4 separate regions of the Homo sapiens genome follow, and regions 1, 2 and 3 are each linked to region 4. The links come from fine-mapping of genetic effects on gene expression. A gene starts in region 4. Each other region holds a variant in brackets. All regions are shown on one strand. Distances are from middle to middle. Region 1 overlaps GPR75-ASB3 (GPR75-ASB3 readthrough). Region 2 has its middle 68 kb from the start of PSME4. Region 3 has its middle 59 kb from the start of ACYP2. Region 4 holds the start of PSME4 (proteasome activator subunit 4).

The links. PIP is the estimated chance that this variant, and not a neighbour inherited with it, causes the effect.
Region 1: its variant is the best candidate, but not a certain one, in a credible set for the expression of PSME4 in whole blood (TOPMed, PIP 0.88).
Region 2: its variant is the best candidate, but not a certain one, in a credible set for the expression of PSME4 in lung (TOPMed, PIP 0.79).
Region 3: its variant is the best candidate, but not a certain one, in a credible set for the expression of PSME4 in whole blood (TOPMed, PIP 0.51).

What each region holds. Positions count from the first base shown.
Region 1 is chr2:53,810,218-53,815,217 of GRCh38, reverse strand. All of the region lies in intron 1 of GPR75-ASB3 (GPR75-ASB3 readthrough), which reads left to right. ERLEC1 (endoplasmic reticulum lectin 1) reads right to left here. Exons shown (of 14, transcript NM_015701.5): 11 at 2,145-2,269; 12 at 598-675; 13 at 283-358. Among named protein-coding and RNA genes, the nearest start is that of ERLEC1, 26 kb to the right of the region's middle. The variant G/C (reference allele first, on the strand shown) is at 2,790.
Region 2 is chr2:54,036,653-54,041,856 of GRCh38, reverse strand. It overlaps a transcript of ACYP2 not described here. Among named protein-coding and RNA genes, the nearest start is that of PSME4, 68 kb to the right of the region's middle. The variant A/G (reference allele first, on the strand shown) is at 2,748.
Region 3 is chr2:54,053,841-54,059,044 of GRCh38, reverse strand. It overlaps a transcript of ACYP2 not described here. Among named protein-coding and RNA genes, the nearest start is that of ACYP2, 59 kb to the left of the region's middle. The variant C/T (reference allele first, on the strand shown) is at 2,311.
Region 4 is chr2:53,967,986-53,973,189 of GRCh38, reverse strand. It overlaps PSME4 (proteasome activator subunit 4), which reads left to right and starts at 2,197. Exons shown (of 47, transcript NM_014614.3): 1 at 2,197-2,647. The coding sequence starts at 2,406. It also overlaps a transcript of ACYP2 not described here. RefSeq lists enhancers at 1,679-1,728, 2,024-2,318, 2,585-3,349 and silencers at 1,929-2,318, 2,193-2,354, 2,329-2,528.

The DNA of each region.
Region 1 (5,000 bases), 160 kb after region 4:
CCTGGCCAACATGGTGGAACCCCGTCTCTACTAAAAATACAAAAATTAGCTGGGTGTGGTGGTGTGCGCCTGTAATCCCAGTTACTCGGGAGGCTGAGGCAGAAGAATTGCTTGAACCTGGGAGGCAGAGGTTGCAGTGAGCCAAGATTATGCCACGGCACTCTGCCTGAGCCACAGAGCAAGACTCCGTCTCAAAAAAACAAAAAAAAAAAAAAAAAAAAAGAAAAAAAAATTAAAACATGGCTCAAAATGGAATTTTTGATTATTTTCTTTTTAACTTACCCCAAGAATATATTGACAGGAGTGAGGCTCTAGCATATATACAGTAACAGCATGAGGTGAATCTGATTCTTTGCACCTAAAACAGAGAGCACTTTAAGGTACTGTCCAAATCATTTAAAGTAAGATCACTGTTAATAACTGTACTCTTAAAAATCCCACTCAAGTGGACCCTGTATGATTTAATATAATTTTATCAATAATTTAAATGGTATACTTTCATAATTATTCATAATTATACTGTTTACATAAAACTTTTGTCCATAGGAAGCAGTTAAAAGACAAAGGCATACAGCATGATTTGATGGTCTAACTTACTTTAGTTTTACAGTCACCTGTCTTGGTTTGTCAGTTATATCACAAATATCTCCATTTCCATAAAAATGTGACACCATCCTGAATCAGAGAAACACACAAGTTTTATTAAACTAAAATCTCACTAATAGAATAATTGTAATGGGTAGGGTGAGAAGATGGTTAGAGGGATCAGTTTTGCATTAGTTAAAAAAAAACCTGACTATAAAATATTCTTTAAAAAAATATTTTTAGGGTTATCTCACAGAGGCATTCTCTTGGATTCTATAAAGAGAATATAAGAGATACTTCATACTGGCTTAGTTAATAATTATTTTCAACTTGCATATTATTTATTTGTATACAAATAATTTTGGTTAGATTCCTTTAAAAAAATTGTTTTAAAGTTATCAATTTCCCTAGCCCACTATATTGTTTTGTAAAACAGTTCTTTGCTTCCGTCCTCCATCAAGCTACTCCCATTAAAATACTGTTCGTTAGGCACTGTAGTATAGAAGACAAAGCCTAGGCCAAACTGTCAATCTCAAATGAGCAGGATCCAAAGAAAAGCTTCATTTTACCAGTCTAACACTCATTCTTCAACATATATTGTACATGATACCACAAACTGTTTTCACATAAAACATATACCTACAAGGATAAGAAAAATCAATTTGTTTAGTACAATAATTAAATGTCTGTGGGAGGGGGGAAGATAGCTTTAGGAGATATACCTAATGCTAAATGATGAGTTAATGGGTGCAGCACACCAGCATGGCACATGTATACATATGTAACTAACCTGCACATTGTGCACATGTACCCTAAAACTTAAAGTATTAAAAAAAAAAAAGTCTATGTTTTAATTTGGCTGACTTTGACTTTTATCAGCCCGAAAAGTCAGTACACTCTGAAAACAATCCAAATCATCTGTTTTAGGAAGGAAAAGGTAATACCCAAGAAGGAACAAGAAGGAATAATTGAAAACATACTGAGTTAAGAGTCTGCAAGAAAAGCTAATGCGTAGTTATTCTTGGGAAATGAGATTAACTTACTGGTGTTTTGACAAGGTATACTCATATATCCTAAAAGAGATGTGAGGTAGTTTTTAAAAAACACCCTCAGTTCTGACAGAATTGAGCCAGTTACTAACACCACTGCCACTCTCATTAATGTTATCACCCCCACTGTTATGGGTGGCAGCCCAGGTTTATTGCATGCTATTGCCAGGCATTCTCCTTTACATAAATTACCTCTTAAATGACACAATAATCATATGAGGCAAATACCATTACACAACAAAAGTGAGAGATAAAAAAGATGATGTAATTTCTCCAAGGTAGGAAGTGATGAGCCAGCATTTGAATCCAGGTAGTCTGACTCCAGGGACTGTGCTCTGAACTATTACACTGTGTTGCTTCCCTAAGAAAAGAAAACTAACCTAAAAGATATCCCTTGAAAAAAACTAAACAGGGATTTTACTTAAATGTTTGAATTTTTATGTTTTTCAATATTTTGAGTTTTAGAAATTGTAGTAATTAGCTCCAAAGGCAAGTAAAGTGAATCTTTACCTGACTGTCTGGGTACCATCGTCTTGAAGATGATAAGCTCTAGCAGTATTCTTCTTAGCCCATTCAATATGCTCTTCTTGGTTCCATGTCCCGACAACCACAGAGGTTTTCCCACTATCCTTGTCCTAATATGGGAAAAAAATTTGTGATAATGCGTGCTTGATATCATCAAGTAGATATTTATGCTGATGACCTGACCTTCTTGTAAGCTAGTCTTTATCTGCACAGTGGATATCTATATTTAGGTGTAATGATGTCAGTCAAATTCAATGAGTGGAAATTTAAGCACATTATCTTCTTTATTCCTTGTTTCTCTGAATAACATAACTAATTTTTAGTAAGGCTAGCTCTAAATGTAGTTATTTTCGGCTCTTCTATCTCTTTTTCTCTTCTACAGGTAAGTCCCATCAGTTCTTTCCTGGATATTTTTCAGCTTTAGACTCTTCCTCTACTTTTTCACTGCCAGCAACTCACCCCACAACCAAGAGTTTAATCTCTCATACCTAGATAATACTATCACATACTACTGCAATTCTTAATTGCATCTTTGGCCTCTATCTCTTCCACTGCAGCCTGACTTCATCCTACGCAATGTTATACTGATCTTTACACTATTCATTTGGTACCATACTTATTTCTCTATTG[G/C]AACTGTCTGTCCAGAAACCCCTTTTCCCATTCTGCTTTTATTATTTTTTAAACACTAACTATATACTGTCTTATATGTGGAAATCCTTCCTTCTTTCTTCTTCCTTATCCTTCCTACCTCCTTGCATTCCTTTGGTTTCTTTCTTCATAGTGTATGCCAGACAACCATGCTGGGCACTAATAGATATCTGGTTAGTAGAATTAAAAACCCCTGGCTGGGGCGCGGAGGCTCACACTTGTAATCCCACCATTTTGGGAGGCTGAGGTGGGCGAAATCACCTGAGGTCGGGAGTTCGAGACCGGCCTGACCAACATGTAGAAACTACTCTACTAAAAATACAAAATTAGCCGGGCGTGCTGGCGCATGCCTGTAACCCCAGCTACTTGGGAGGCTGAGGCAGGAGAATCACTTGAACCTGGGAGGCAGAGGTTGCAGTGAGCCAAGATTGCGCCATTGCACTCCAGCCTGAGCAATAAGAGGAAAACTCTGTCTCAAACAAAACAAAACAAAAAAAACCCCTATGGTGGCAAAGGAAACAAGCAGGGCCAATGCCCAGTGGAGCTTAGTGCCTAATGTAAGAGATAGCTAACAACATTTGTTTTTAGCAACTAGATTAAGTTCCTGGATAGGCAGAAATTAGAGCAGCAAAGTGAAGTGTTTTAAGAGGTTGGATATGGAGCCAGACTGCCTCGGTTGGAATTCCAGTTTCCCCAGTTACTACCTATTTGACTTTAGGCAAGTTATTGAACCTTTGTTTCTATTTCCTCATCTTGGAATAACAATAACCACTTCTTAAGGTTGTTATGAATATTAAAAGAATTAATACGTGTAAAGTACATAGTGCCTAGCATACAGTAAGCACCCTTTTTGCTAATTACTATTATTTTTAGTATCTCTCTAAACACCTAACAGAGTTCCCTAGAAAGTTCCAGGTTATGCAACCTTGGCTAAAATACGTTTGGTAAAACCTAGTGTTGGCAAGTGTATAGGAATGTAGCCACTGTTTATGGGAGTGTAAACTGGTCTAACTCTGGAAGGCAATTTTCCAGTATGCAGATACTTTGACCAAGGAAGTATGTTAATAGAAATGTCCCTTATGAATATACTTACAAAAGTATACCAACAGAACTATTTAAAAATGTTCACTAAAACATATCACAGCAAAAACTGGAAACAACTTAAAGGTCCATTAGCAGAGGTCTGGTCTGGTTAAATACACTGTGGTACAGACATAATCCTCTGTATCTGCTGAAAAGAATGAAATCGATTGTTGCTGACGTGGAGCAATCTCCAAGATACTAAGTGAAAAGAACAAGTGGCAGAGCAGTGCATGATACCTTCCCTATAAATAAAAAAGTTATACCAAGATCTATATATATGCATTTTTTTTCTTGTGGCAGGCTATGAAAATGTTAACAGTAGTTAAACTTTTTTGAGAAGTGGTATGATGGCAGAGGAGACAGATACTTCTCATTTAAAATTTCTGGCATACATTTCTTTAATTAAGAAACTCATCAGGTATTATAAGGGTTGTAGTTCAATGGTACTTTATCCTTTTTCTGTATTGTTATTAAAAAAACAAACATCTGCAAAGTAGCAGGAATAAATGGAAAGAATACTTAAATGAAACCTCTCAGGTTTAAGTGAAAAACAAAACAAAACAAAACAAAAAAACCGAACACATCCTAGTCTATGGATGCCTCATTCATTTTGGAAGATTTAAATGTGGAAGGTGAATTGACAGTCTGTCCCAGTATGATCTATCTTGGAATCTGAGATCAGTTCAAAACATTATGAGTGGGCAAATATACACTTTTCTATTTTGGGTATTATTTTCTTTTTTAGATAACGAAAATGGCCTTTTAAAGCAGCTAGGTCCATATTCATTAATTAAAGCTTGTCTTCAATACCTAGCAGCTTACTTTACTAAACAAAGTATAAGTAGGACAAATAACAGAATTGGAACTTGAACCTCAGAATTTAAGCAGGCTGGCTCAAGTATGGGAGAATACGGTGAGTTATAAAATTATAAATAAAAGAACTCAAAAAGTATAATCTTAAAACTTATTTTAAACTTAGATGATATGGTATTTTCTTTTTTTAAAATTTTTAAAATTTTTTGTAGAGATGGGGTTTTGCTATGTTGCCCAGGCTGCTCTTGAACTCCTGGCCTCAAGTGATCCTCCTGCCTTGGCCCCCCAAAGTGTTTG
Region 2 (5,204 bases), 69 kb before region 4:
ATCGTGCCAGTGTACTCCAACGTGGGCAACAGAGCAAGACCCCACTCTAAAAAGAAAAAAATGCATTCTAAGTGGGGAAACAATTTATTCTTTCATGTATGCGTTCATTTGATACCTCACCCAGCTTAAACTCACTTATATTATGTTGCATGTACCCTCAGCTCCCTTGCCGCCTCTGACACTGAGATACTCACTTGAATAAACAATAACCTTTGTTGAAGAAAACATTCCCCATAGTCCAGTCGTACACCTGTGCAGCCAAATGCAACTAGTGAAGAACCAAACCATACTAAGAGATCTCACTTTAAATTCATGATCATAAGTTTTGAGTAAGCCCTTAATGCTGCTAACAACCACACTGAATTTCCCTGGCCCTTTTATTCTCCCACTCTCCTGGGTGACTATTTCACACCTTCTCTGTCCTCAAACCTCAAATACTTACTCACCTCCCCTCATCATTCTGATGCCCTTGCTTCCTATTTCACTGAGAAAATAGAATGAATCAGAAGAGAGCTCCCACAAACACCCACCGCTGCATCATGCCCATATTCTGGGCTTCCTTCCTGTGACTGTAGAGGAACACTCTGTGCCCCTAGAAAAGGCCACCGCTGGCCGGGCGTGATGGCTCATGCCTGTAATCCCAGCACTTTAGGAGGCTGAGGCAGGCAGATTGCATGATGCCAGGAGTTCAACACCAGCCTGGGCAACATGGTGAAACCCTGTCTCTACAAAAAATACAAAAAAAAAGAAAGAAAGAAAGAAAGAGAGAGAGAGGAAAAGAAAAGAAAAAAAGAAAAGAAAAGGCCACCGCTTTCCTTGTGAACCAGACACCACCTACTCAAGGACATCACTCCAGCAATTCTCCTCTCAATCACCTGCATCAGCTCATCCCTTTCCCCTGGATCTTTTCCACCTATCTATGAACACTATTTCTCCCATTTTTGAAAAACCCTCTGTTGACCTCACTTCCTCTTTCAGCTACTACCTCCATTTCTTTCTTTCCTAGGGGTTGTCTATATTCCCCATGTCCAGTACCTCTCTAAAACCTAATATAGTCAGTTATTTATCCAATCCACTTCAGTTAAATCACTCTCATCAAGATCTCCTCCACTTTCCTGTTGCTATATCCAACAGCCAAGCCTTAATTTTCATCTTACTTGATCAGTTAGTAGAATGTGATTACTCTTTCCTCCTGAACCACTTTCCATATAGTTTTTAGAAGGGCACTTACCTAATCTTTCCCCTATTTCTCTGGCTGCTCATTATCAGTCTTCTATGTTAGGTCCTGTTCATCTCTCTGACCTCCAAAACTTGGAGCATCCCAAGATTCAGCCCTTGTACCTCTTCTGCTTTCCATCTTCACTGACTCATTTGGCAATCTCCTCTAGTCTCATGACTTGAACTATCATCTAGGATGTGCTAACAGTGTCCGGTCTGCATGTCTCCCCTATACCCCAGATTCACATATCCAGCTGCCTCCTTAATATTATCACTTGAATAAAAGACATCTCAAGTTTAACAAGTCCTAAACTGAACTCCTGATTGCTGCTTGTCACTGCCCTACCACCAAATCCTGTTCCTTTTCTTCTTTTCCCGAGTTGCAGAGTTCAAAGCCTTGAAGTCATACTGGATGCTTCTTTTCCTCTCACACCTCACATCTGACCTATCAGCAGATCTGTCTGATTAACCTTCAGCATATGTCCAGAATCTGACCAATTCTCACCACTTCCACTACTACCACTGCTGTCTTTTACCTAAATTACTGTGGGAACCTCCAAACTAGTCTCCCAGCTTCCATCTTTGACATGTTGAGATTCTTCTCAACACAGAAGCCTGGGCCAGGCACAGTGGCTCATGACTGTAATCCCAGAACTTTGGGAGGCCAAGGCACAAAGATCTCTTAAGCCCAGGAGTTTGGGGCTGCAGTGAGCTATGATTGTACCACCACACTCCAGCCTGGGCAACAGAGCAAGACCCTGTCTCAAAACACACACACACACACACACACACACACACACACACACACACACACACACAAAAGAAAACAAATATAAAACACAGAAGCCTGAGTGACACCGATAAAAACATAAATTCAAGAAGATCACTCTTCTGCTCAAAAACCCTCCAAGCCCTCCAAAGGGCTGCATGTGCTGGCTCATGCCTGTAATCCCAGAGCTTTGGGAGGCTGAGGTGGGTGGATCGAGGAGTTCGAGACCAGCTTGGGCAACATGATGAAACCCCATCTCTACCAAAAATACAAAAATTAGCCAGGTATGATAGTGCACACGTGTAGTCCCAGCTACTAGGGAGGCCAAGGTGAGTGGATTGCTTGAGCTCAGGAGTTCGAGATCAGCTTGGGCAGCATCATGAAACCCCATCTCTAGAAAAAATACAAAAATTAGCCAGGCATGATAGTGCACACCTGTAGTCCCAGCTACTAGGGAGGCTGAGGCGGGAGGATCGCTTGAGCCTGGGAGGCAGAGGTTGCTTGAGCCAAGATCACACCACTGCCCTCCAGCCTGGGCCACAGAGTGGGACCCTGTCCCCCCCCGCCAAAAAAAAGGAAAAAGAAAAAAAGAGAAGAAAAGAAAAAAAAAATTAAAGCACGATGTAGGCTGGGGAAAAAAAAAAAAAAAAAACTTCCAAAGATATTTTTAGTAAAAGTTCAACTTGAAAAATTATTTTAAAGCCCTACATGCTCTGCTCACTGCCCATTCTCTCCCAACCTCACCCTCTACTTCTTTCCC[A/G]CTTCCCTGTTCTATTATAGGAGCACGCTCCCCACCCTTTGCTGTTCCTTGAACATTCCAGACACCTCAGGACCTTTGTACTAGCTGTTCCTGGGATGTTCTTCCCCCAGATATGACTCACTCATTCACTCACTCAACTCCTTCCCTCAAATATCTCCTTCTCAGTGAGCCCTTCCCTGTTAACCCATCTAAAATTGCAATTTCAAGAGCTCCTTTTCCCACTTACTGGCTTTACTTTTTTTTCCTGCAGAATTTATTGCCACCTATGGAACAAATGTTTATTTTATTTATCTTTTTTTTTTTTTTTTTACCTATTCTGACAACCAAAATGTGAGCTCCAAAAAGGTGGGGGTTTTTTCATCTTTTTTCATTGCTGTATCTTAGCACTTAGAAGAGTATATATATATATATATATATATATATATATATATATATAGTATTCAATAAAGATTTATTGAATGAATGAATGCCTACTGTATGCAAAGAATCACCTTTAGGTTCTGGTGAAACAGAGAGGAATAAAGTTACTGAACACTCTGCACTTCAGGTTCCTCATCTACAAAATGGAGATAATAATAAGCCTCATGGGACTATTACAAGGATTAAATGATCAATAACTTATGTAGTGCTTAGAATAGCACCACGCACTTAGTAAGTACTATGTTAAGTAAATAAAATACATACATATATATATTTAAATCCCTGCCCTCAAGAAGCTCACATATAGTGGAAAGTAAGATATATTTGCAAAAAAAACAAAGAGTATGCAGTGTTAGCAAAGAAGACGGGAAAAGGGTCAACTTACCCTTAGGGTGAAAGAAGCCTTCACAGAGAAGCTGAACTTAATGTGAATCTTGGAGAATGAGGAGGTGTCTACCAGGCCAAAAATAAGGGCATCCTAGGCCAAGGACAACCGAACAAATGTTTGAATCAGGACGCTCAGAGGTTAGAATAAATCTGTCCTCCCACCTTCCAGGAAGTGTTGATCCAGAGTTGTCTCAATATATCCAGCTTGTTTTTCCTACTTCATGCTTTAATTTCCTTATTATATAAGGGAAGGTGTTGGTAACACTGAATATTAAATTGTAGTAATTTCACTGTGTAGGAGAGAAAGCTTCGGAGATTTTTACACCCTGGGGAAATATTTATTCCAATCTGCATGATGCACACAGTGAAAAGCACCTGCTAGCTCTAAGTCACCTTCACATTCCTGAAAGAATTTCCAAGTTTCTCATAGTTTATTGATATTTATAATGTTGATATTTTCAATCTTCTGATATGACCATTGATAACCACCTAGCTTATTAAAAGTCTTACATTTCATTTGTTTCAAAAGCACTCTGATTTCGATTTTACTATATATTTTATTCACTTTTTTAAAGTTAATTAAAAGCATGTTTTAGGCCGGGCATTATGGCTCACCCCTGTAATCCCAGCACTTTGGGAGGGTGAGGGGGGAGGATCACTTGAGGCCAAGAGTTCAAGATTAGCCTGGGTAACATTGTGAGATCTCATCTCTACAAAAAATTTAAAAGTTAACTAGGCATAGGGGTTCACTGTGGTCCTAACTACTCAGGAGGCAGAGGTGGTTGGATTGCTCGAGCCTAGGAGGTTGAGGCTGCAGTGGGCCGTGATTGTGCCACTGCACCTCAGCCTGGGTGACAGAGCAAGACTCTGTCTCAAAAAAACAAAACAAGCTTGGTATGGTGGCTTATGCCTGTAATCCCAGCAATTTGGGAAGCTGAGACAGGTGGATCACTTGAGAACAGGAGTTTGAGACCAGCCCAGGGAACATGGTGAAACTCCGTCTCTACCAAAAATACAAAAAAATTAGACAGGCATGGTGGTGGGCGCCTGTAATCCCAGGTATTTGGGAGGCCGAGGCCAGAGGATCACTTGAGCCTGGGAGGCAGAGGTTCTAGTGAGCCAAGATTGCACCACTGCACTCCAACCTGGGTGACAGAGCGAGATTCTGTCTTAAAAAACAAAACAAAATTCTAACGTCCATTGAAATATTTTCTAAAGGAGTTTTTCTCTACATTAAAAAATAGGAGTTAGGTCCTTTGGCCAGAAACTCAATGTAAAATTATATACATATTAATTAGGGACAACATTACTTCACACAACTCTAAGTCCTCTTAAATGAGTGATCTAGAAATCAGAGGAGAGGGACCTGACCATGAAGCAGTCAAGGCATCATCCAGGGAAGACCGCAGGGGCCACGCAGGAGGTAACAGAGCACCACAGTTGGGTGTCCAGTTTTCAGGATATGGTCCAGAAACAGTCCCGCCAATGTCCTGGGTGTAGGCCCTGAGAGATCCTAGACATTCAAATGCCACTTTATTCATTTACAATGAGAAATTAAACTCTCACATGGACCAGAATTTTCTTGCTTGCCTAATTTGTGCATTTTCTCCTTGAAGTCAAGGCAAAGAGAAGCCAATTCACCATCAGAAG
Region 3 (5,204 bases), 86 kb before region 4:
AATGGCTTAGGCCAGCATGACCATAAACCACAAATAACATCTCCAACCAGAAACTTTCCAAACCCCTCCGTGACCAGAGACATGCTAGCCATGAGATAACCCACCTCCAGTGGGGAAGATACCAGCCTTGAGATAACCCCCATCTGGGTGGAAAGATGTCTGCCCCAAGATAAACATCCCTCCTCCCAGAGACATTCCAACCCCACCATAAAACTTCTCCCTCACACAGAAACATTCCAAGCTTATAATAAGCCCCTTCACCCTAAGACCAATATATACTCCAATATATAGTCTGTAAGAGAAAGTGCTCCTGACCAAAAAAAAAAAAAAAAAAATTATCAGCCAGAAGCCCCTCTCATGTTTTATCTAAAGTAAACCTGTCTTAACTGCCAAGCCACATTTTGTGTTTCTTTCCTCTTTCTTTAACTCTTACAGGTGGTACAATGAAGGATAAGTAGTCAAAGTACAATACTTGGGTTACCAATGACCAACACTGACATCATAATGTAAATACTCGATATTGAATTAACTAGAAATGAAGTTAGAATTATATTAGAATGACAGGAGAGGGAAATATGTGTGTGTCAGGGGTTAATAGATAATATCTAAAATTTGTAAATGAAGACATAGGTGTATAATGATAGGCATTTTATATCAGGAAAAACTACTGAAGATTTAAAAGCCCCTGGGAAGCACAGCTGAGGGGAGGGAGAAGGTACTGCTTTTTTTTTTTTTAATATAAGCTTTGTAGTACTATTTAATATTGTATATAGCTTTGTACTACTTTGATAAAACAAACTGATAACCCTGCCCCCAAAAAGAACCAATGAGAATAAGTCCAGAGCTTATTCACATTTTAGCTTGTATCATGCGTTAACACCAACACTCCATTTAATGTGAATTATCTTCAAAGACCCAATATTTACTAAATTTAGGAAGAGACCAATCATTGCTTCATATGCCCTACCTCCCTCAGGGACCAATACTTGAATTTTCAAAGCATTATTCACAAAGGGAAAAATATTTTCTCCTATTTTCTATGTGTGATAAGTGAATATCCCAAAGCATGAAATATGAATTTAAAATATTTGTTTTCCAAATGTTCATTGATTCTTTACATTTACTACACCACATCTGTTTGGCATTTAATAACCAAATCAAAAGCCTCTCTTCCTCTGCTCTGCCTTAGCCACTCAATCCCCTCTCAAATGGTGACCTCATTACATCACCCAGGGCCTTCCCTGCTTTGACTCCTCATTTGAGTAATTCCCACATTCACCTTACAAACTGCCAAATATTCAGTATCCTATAAACAACAGTATTATATATATTTTTGCTAACAACATATATATACACACATATATATATAAAACAGTAAAGAAGTGTATAAATTCAGAACCTATTAATCTAGAGTAAACAAATTTAGTATGCTTCTAATAAAACGTACTTCTCTGGTAGACAGAACAGTCTGTCAGTGCTTACATGACTGTAAAAAACTATCTTTGAATTGAATCAATCAAACATAGACTCAATATTCGTTTCTTTTACATGGGCACTTTTTCCCTCAAAATGTCTCTAACAGATAAGTTCTGCCATCCTGAGGCTAATTTTATATACCAAAATGTTCTGATGAACTGTAAAAGGTAGATATTCATTAAAATCAGTATTTATTTTGAAGACTTACTTAAGCAAATTGTTGATTTTATGAAAGTAGTTGATGAGCAAGAAATGTTCTCCTTCCATGGTTCTTCACTCACAATTATGACTTGACCAAAACCAAACTCTGATAATTGTATGAATTTATAGCTGGAAACAAAATATGTGAGAACAGTAAGAAAAAGTTCATCACCAAGAAACCCCAAGGGCAGGTTGCATAGTTATGTCATGAAATCAGTCAATCTAGACAATCTAATTTATGGTTCAAGTCAAAATTCATATCCCTTCCCTATCAACCCAAATATTGAAAGGGAAAACACACTAGAAAGCTATTTTATCTGAATTATTGGGATAATAGCTATAATTTTCACATAGTTTTGCAAATGGAATTAATGTTTTGGTGTGAGCAAGATATTGATAAACTATTTGTCATATCAGTTAGATATATTAAACATATATAATGAATAAATGAAATAAAAAGCATTTGTCTTACACAAATAATTAAGTTCCTTTAAGTTCTTTTTAAAAGTATTTTTTTCTGATTTTAGATTTACAGAAAATTCATTATATTCTTAATATAGGAATCAACAGGTAATATAGTAGAAAGCTATTAAAGTACAGGTGACAAATGGCAAATAAAATACAGATGACATA[C/T]ACAACATGCAATATAGTTACTATTTTCTGAATAAAAAATCTGGACCAAGATAAGCCCTTCCATGGGAAAAATAAATAATTTGAAAACAGAACTATCTTAGAAAATCCAGAATGTGTCATGATTGAAAATATACATCATTATAAATGCAAAGAAAGATATCATTCATTTAAAGAATACAAAGAGGTTCCATTTGATACTTATTTTACCATCTAGAATTCAACTGCACATTCTGAGCAAAAATATCTTTAAAAAAGAAATGGAAATAAAAGCAGTACAGGGTATTATGCTTCTGTTAAACTCAGTGAGCATGTGCCCTTGCCAATGGATATGATCAAACCTAAATCAGTCAAGGGATGTTGACAACCTGTGGAAAGAACATATGATTTTATTTGAATTGTATCCTGGACGATGGGCAAATATGTCAGAAACTGCCCATGTCACCAGGCCGTGAATGGTGATATCTTCTTTGCTGCCTATCAGTTCAGTAGATAAGCAGATAAACTTAGGGTGTCCTGCTTGGGTGACACCCTGATTAGTTCCACCAGTGCCTGGTTCCACTCATGAATCCTCCTCAAGCTGGTGGAAGACAACCAGCTCTTTTTCTCTACTCCCTGGAGAACCTTTTCTATATGGACATCTTTTTTGAAATTAACTACATTAATCCAGAAAAAGCAGCATTTTGAAATCATAGGAGCCTGGTGCAAATAATTTATTTAACTTCTCTGAGCTTAGGTTTCCATGGAGTGAAAGAAATCTATTTACAGTATGCCTATGGGGGTACTATATCTGACAGTACTACTATATTACAGTATGTCTATGGAGGTACTATATCTGACAGTACTACACATTATTAGACTCTGTGTTTATCACAACACATGTTACAGAATACACAATTTCAATATGTGTCAAATATTTCTCTAACTTCAGAATTCAATTCATAACTGAACACTTAGATGCATTGTTCTCTCTGCCAAATTGGACCTCTGGGTGCATGTAATTTGTTGAACAGCAGATAGGCTTAATATGTCTTTGGCTATTATGTAGTATATGGAGGGTGTCATAGGACAGGTTTTAGAGTTAGATTTAGGATGAAATTCAATCTCCACCATCACGTCCTAAATATATGCTATTAAGAAATTCGATTAACTTCTCTGAGCCTCTATTTTCTATTTGTAAAATAGGAAAATAATACTTTTTCTATCTACCTCACAAGGATTTTTGTAGGAATGAAATTGGACAATATATGTCAAAATGCTTTGTGAATAATAGAATGCTATATAAATACAAATTGTTTACATTATTATCACAATTATTACTGTGAGTAATGGAATTACTATAAATAATAATTTTATTATTCCTGACACATGATTTAGGAAAAAAGGAAGAAATTATCTCATTTAAGAAAAACCAGGCTGGGTGCCTGTAATCCCAGCACTTTGGGTGGCCAAGGCAGGTGGATCTCTGAGGTCAGGAGTTCTAGACCAGCTTGGCCAACATGGTGAAACCCCATCTCTACTAAAAATACAAAAATTAGCTAGGTGTGGTGGTGCACACCTGTAGTCCCAGCTACTTGGGAGGCTGAGGCAGGAGAATTGCTTGAACCCGGGAGGTGGAGGGTGCAGTGAGCTAAGATCACACCACTGCACTCTAGCCCGGTTGACAGAGCGAGACTCTGTCTAAAAAAAGAAAAAAAGAAAAAGAAAAACCAGTTGTTGCATAGCCAGCTCTTTTTTATATGAGGAAAAGTTAGTAAGTAAATATTTACGTAAAGCCAGAGAATTAAAATACAACTTCTAGTCTGCACACTACTACTGAAACTTCTTGGAGAAATCTCCCTAATTTATTTAGCCTGGCTTTCTTATCTCTAAAGTAATATCTACCTCATTAGATTTCTATGAGGACAAACATGGGAAAACAATGGGAGATATGTCAAATCCTTTAGAAGGAAGTCTCTTGTATTCAGATGAGTTATATGTTCCTTCTTTAGATATATGATTGTGGGCAATCATCTCACCTTGGTAATGCATCTTATTTTATGAACAAGACTGCAGATATCATTATCAGAGATGTATAGTTGTGGTAGAGTTAACCCAGGAAATCTTTAAGGAGCACTGGAGAACCTCAGCTTCACTCTTTAATTATAGCATGGTTAACACACAGTACTGTTATGTTAAGAAGACTTCAAACCACAGCTAAGTAAAATCGAGAGACAAAAATGACCCATTGTTTGCAGAAGAGGAGAACAGAACATTCAAGAAAATCAAAACAAGATCAATCTGTCAGCAGAATATCACAAGGACTTCGAACTTCCTTTTCAGACCCAGGAAATTTTCTTTAAAAGAGAAACTTAGAAATGCATCGTTGGCAAGAAAGAGAAAGAAGCAAAAGAAGAACCTTTTTTACATTATTAGCACATTATACCTAATCTAGAAACTATCTGTCTCTTATGCTATTTTTAAGTGCCACCTCAATGAAAAGAAGGTGAATTTTACATCTCACTGTAACTAATAATGTTCCCAGAATAAGTTATCTTATTCCATTGTAGGCAGAAGTCTAGCAAACGTCTTAAACCCTTACCAGCTCTGGGTTATGATAGGCACTCAGAAGCTGTTCTTTCATTGTACAGGAAAATCCCTATCTCGAAACTGTACTTGAATATAAGCCAGGATCTGGGCCTAGGGCCTGAGTTACTGGTTAGGGTTTTTATACCAATTCCATCCTCTACCCAGAGAGTCTGTGCCAGTATCAACATCAAGTTTCTTGACAGGAAATTGCTTTCTTCCCTTTCTTGAAATGAGATTTAATGAAAGACCAGAACACCTGTTGCCCTCTCCCAGTGAGAGTAAACTTTAATTAGTTAGGGTCTAATCAAGAGCAAAAACCACATAGTAAT
Region 4 (5,204 bases):
CAATAAACTATCCAATAAACCCTTTCAGGTTTCACTTCATTTGACCTGTTAGCTACCTAAGGTAGGATTGTTCGCTTCTCCATGAGACACCCAGTTTCCTAGAACTCCTCCTCTCTCTGCTTTTTGTGAATATTCTTTGTGGCCTACCTTCCTTTTCTCTGTCTGTCCTTAAATGTGGGGCTCCTCAGAGATTTGTGAAGGGCCCTATTTTTTCATACTGTATATTTCCTTCCCTCCTGTCGTCCATCTACACGCTAATCTGCATCTCAGTTTAGATCACCCTCCTGATACATATGTCAACATACCCATCCCATAGGCATTCTGCCTCCCAAGCTGTTTCTGCTGTGTTCTTTATCTCAGTGAAGGACTTCACCTATCTACCCAGCGTCGTCTTGTCTCTTTCCTTTTTAATTTTTCACTTTCAGTCAACTACTAAGCCCAAGCCATTCTGCTGAAGTAGCTCTCAATTTCAACTGACATCCAGGCCATGATTATGTCACACCTTAAAGGGTCCTCCAGTTCCCAATCTTGTCAGTTCCAACCCATTTTCCAGACGAAGCCAGAGTGACTCTTTTTTTTTTTTGAGACGGAGTCTCGCTCTGCCACCCAGGCTGGAGTGCTGTGGCACGATCTCGGCTCACTGCAAGCTCCATCTCCCGGATTCACGCCATTCTCCTGCCTCAGCCTCCCGAGTAGCTGGGACTACAGGCGCCCGCCACCATGCCCGGCTAATTTTTTTGTATTTTTAGTAGAGACGGGGTTTCACCATGTTAGCCAGGATGGTCTCCATCTCCTGACCCCGTGATCCACCCGCCTCGGCCTCCCAAAGTGCTGGGATTACAGGCGTGAGCCACCACGCGCCTGGCCCTTTTATTTTTTGAGACGGAGTTTCGCTCTTGTTGCCCAGGCTGGAGTGCCCTGGCGCGATCTTGGCTCACTGCAACCTCCGCCTTCCGGTTTCAAGCGATTCTCCTGCCTCAGCCTCCCGAGTAGCTGGGATTACAGGCGTCCGCCACCACGCCCGGCTAACTTTTTTGTATTTTTAGTAGAGACGGGGTTTCACCATGTTGGCCAGACTGGTCTCGAACTCCTGACCTCGTGATCCGCCCGCCTCGGCCTCCCAAAGTGCTGGGATTACAGGCGTGAGCCACTGCGCCCGGCCGCCAGAGTAATTCTTAAAAAATGTAAATTATATCATCCCACTGCTATGCTTAAAATCTTTTGGAAGTTTGTCTCTAGGATAAAGCTCTGAATTCCTTAGGATTGCCTTCTCAGTCTCATTTCTCCGTCCCCTCTCTTACGCTATTTTGAACTTTGAATTTTTAGAATACATGCTTGCAGCGTCAAAGCTGTTCTCTCAGCTGAAATACGTGTCCTCCTCCCTCCTTTTTCTAACCAACTTTGCACTCAACCTTCATAGCTTAAATTAAGTATCACTTCTAGGAAAATGACACCCTCTCAAACCCCCTAGTTTCAACTTCTTTGTAGAGTTCCTAAGGATTCTTGTACTTATCTAGCAATTAAGAGCATTATCTTGTAATTCACGTCTTTATCTCTGCTAGACTAAGTCCTTGGGAGGGCGGAAACCAGGTTAAACTTTCTATCTCAATAGCCTAAACTGAGCGCCTTACACACAAAACAGCTGTTCAAATAGCATTTGTTCAGCGAGTAACTATTTTCTTCTTTGGAATGATGGCGGCCAGAATACCAGAAAGATGGGGACTTAAAGGGGACAGAAAAATTAAATCTATAAGGAACAAGCGGGATGGAGTAAATAAATCTATAAGGAGCAAGTGGGTACGTAGGCTTTTCCATAAACCCCTCTAACCCAGAAGCCGGGGCTGCTCGGCTAGGGGGACCAGGCCGACCTGGCTGCCGCCTGTCGTGGCGACTGGGACTCCAGTGGGCTGCCGCTTGGAGTGCGCGACCCCCGGCGAAGCAGGACAATAGCTTGGAATTCGGCCTCGTGTTTCCGGTGAGGCAGCCTCGCGCTGGGCCGGTGAGGCCTGGGGTGGGGGCTCCGAGCCGGGCCCACGGCGAAGAAGGCGCAGCCCGTTGGGCTCCAGCTGCCGCCACCACCGCCTCCCCCGACGCCGTCGCTCCGCCCCGCCCCGCCCCGGAAGTGACTTGAGGCCGGTCCGGAACCTCTGGGCCCGGCGGCTGCAGCGTCACCAGCAGAGCCGGTGCGGGGCGGGCAGAGCGGCCGCTGCCGCCGCCAACGAACTGAGAGCCGCGTGGGGCCCAGCAGCACGCCGGCCAGGGAAGGGGGCCTAGCGATCGGTCCGAGGGCGACGGGCCGCCAGCGGCCGCAGGGCGACGAAGACGCGGAGGAGGCGGAGCCCGGAGAGGGGTGGGGGCCGGGGAGGGTTCGGGTGGGAGGGGGTGGGGGGGGTGTCCCTGGGCTCATGGAGCCGGCCGAGCGGGCGGGAGTCGGAGAGCCCCCGGAGCCGGGCGGGCGTCCCGAGCCGGGCCCGCGGGGCTTCGTCCCGCAGAAGGAGATCGTCTACAACAAGCTGCTGCCCTACGCGGAGCGGCTAGACGCCGAGTCCGACTTGCAGCTGGCCCAGATCAAATGCAACCTGGGCCGGGCCGTGCAGCTCCAAGAGCTGTGGCCCGGGGGCCTCTTCTGGACCAGGAAACTCTCCACGTAAGTGTGCCCGGGCCTGCGGGCCGGGCCGGGGGGAAAGGCTCAGTGAGAGGTGTCGGGGATGGTTGCTCTTTGTCCAGAGGGCTGGACCCTTAGCTCTGTCCTCGCTGGAGCTGTCCCCGAGCGGTGATCCCAGGGTCGTGACAGAGCCTGTGAAGTACTCAAGCCGTCCTCCCTGCCACTTTCCTACGGGACTTCCCGGGTCTTTACCATCCCTCTACGTCCTCCGCATCTGCTTCTCCCGAAGTGTTCGGGTTGTTGTCTTCCCACCTGGGGGGCCCTGGGTAGCCCAAGGGCCCCGGCCCCGAGGGAGAGAGGTGAGCCTTTCTCAAGGGTCCTCCGTGGACTTTTGCGCATGGGAGAGGCGGGGCAAAGAGAATTTGTCTTTGGGGGAGTTCCTTGACTTGTCTCCTTGCTTCCTCCGGTTCTTCCTTCCCCTACGATCCCCGCCTCTTCGCATCTCCGTTGGCGTCTAGTAACTTTCTGAATGGAGAGAAGACCATAGGGAAACTTAAGGGTTTTGCTTTTTGGGGGCCCTCTCAGACCTGGCGGAGTTGATCGAAAAGGGTCGTTTAAAGTCAGACCTCATTCTTGAGCTTAACGTCTTATGTGGACAGTGTTGTTTTGGATTGTGTGTTGCTCCTGTTGTGACATTTCTTTTGGAGAGACATTTAAGATACTGAGGAAAGTAGGGAAGAGCACTGTCAGGATGTCCAGGGCGATATTAGTATCAGGCTTGTGTTAATTTTTTGAGTTACTCAGATTAAGAGATTACCTAAATCAGTTTCAGGAGTTCTGTTTGTAAACTAGCTTCAAACTATAGTGTCACTGAAATTAGGAAAAAAAAAAAAAAAACGAGTGAAAATACAGTGGGGGAAAAAAGGTTACATTTACTTGCTGGATGGGCATCTTTACTGTGTCCGAAGAGCTTTTTAAGAAAGAATTTTGCTGTATCTTGTTTGGTTAACTGTACATAAAATCTAGTAACATGGTATGTTCACGCATGTGGGTATGGACGGGTGAACACACAAGACATAACTCACTCATTCAGTGTTTACCCAAAGCTGCTGATTGAACTGAGTGATGACTCAGGGTTTTGTAATAGTTTTGTGTATATTCACTGGATGATTCTCATCTGCCAATTATTAAGGGGCCTCTGACAAATTTCTCATTTCCACTTGAGGGGTGGGTGGGACCTTTTTAATTAAAAAGAAGCAAAACTAAAACATGTAATTTGCCCTCTTCAGAGAGTGATCATAAAATGTCAAGGTTAACAGCTCTCCCCTTGACTAGAGTATAATGAAGTTTTTCGTGTTAGGATCCTTAGGAGAATGGAGGTGAGGGGCGGCAGAAGCAGGAATGCAACAGGGAGAACCACGTTTAGTCAAAAAAGAATATTTTATAAATAGTTAAAATCCAAATGCTTTTTCAAGTGAGACTCCTAGGTTTTTGTGTTGCTCAGGCACAGTAAAAATAGTCACTTTGTTACAGTAATTCCCCATTTTAATCACTTGGATTAGACTTGCCAGAGAATACCTACCATTTTTGGGGACGCAAACAGCTTTTTTTAGTGTACATTATATAAATATGCCATGGTGTGAAGGCATATCTGCTTTGGATTTATAAACCTAGAATCTACCAAGGCATAGTTAAGCATTGTTTTCTAAAGTATTTATTGTTAACAAGTTTGGTAAATTAGCACTCCGAGTTTTGTTATTGTTTTGGCTTATTAGATAAAAGTTTGTACCTAGAAAGGGCTAAAAATAACAATGGAGCTAATGTTTGGTGTTTAGGGCTGGATTGCAGATAGCTGATGGCTTAATACCCATGAACCCATAACCATTTATAGCTAAATAACCAGCAAGAAATGCTACTGGGTAGAATTTTATTTTGGAATAGTGGTTAGATGCTGGAAACTGATTCTTGATATTGCACTATGAGACATTTTGAATGCGGTGGGACATGTTGTGATCTTGGGTGTGTTTTTTTCCTAAGTCATGTTAAGGTGACCTGTTCATAGTTGTGCTTGTTGTTTTTTAAGCCTTCTGTGTTGCATAAGTGAACATCTGAATAATGCCAAAACGTGTGACGAAAGCTGAGTGGTGATCATATTTAGTACTTTGTAGAATAGAAAGTGGTAATGAAAAGAAAATCTAGTTTCTCCCACTAGCTCTGAGACTGTGGGAAAGTTACTTAATCATGTGTTTCAGTATGCTTGTGCGTGAAATGAGGGGATTGGACTAAATAATTCTTTTTTTTTTTTTTTTTGAGGTGGAGTCTTGCTTTGTTGCCCAGGCTGGAGTGCAGTGGCAGGATCTTGGCCCACTGCAATCCCTGCCTTTCGGGTTCAAGCGATTCTCCTGCCTCAGCCTCCCAAGTAGGTAGGATTATAGGCGAGTGCCACCATGCCTGGCTACTTTTTTTGTATTTTTAGTAGAGACAGGGTTTCACCATGTTGGTCAGGCTGGTCTTGAACTCCTGACCTCAAGCAATCTGCCCACCTCGGCCTCCCAAGGTGCTGGGATTACATGTGTGAGCCACCGCACCCGGCCTGGAC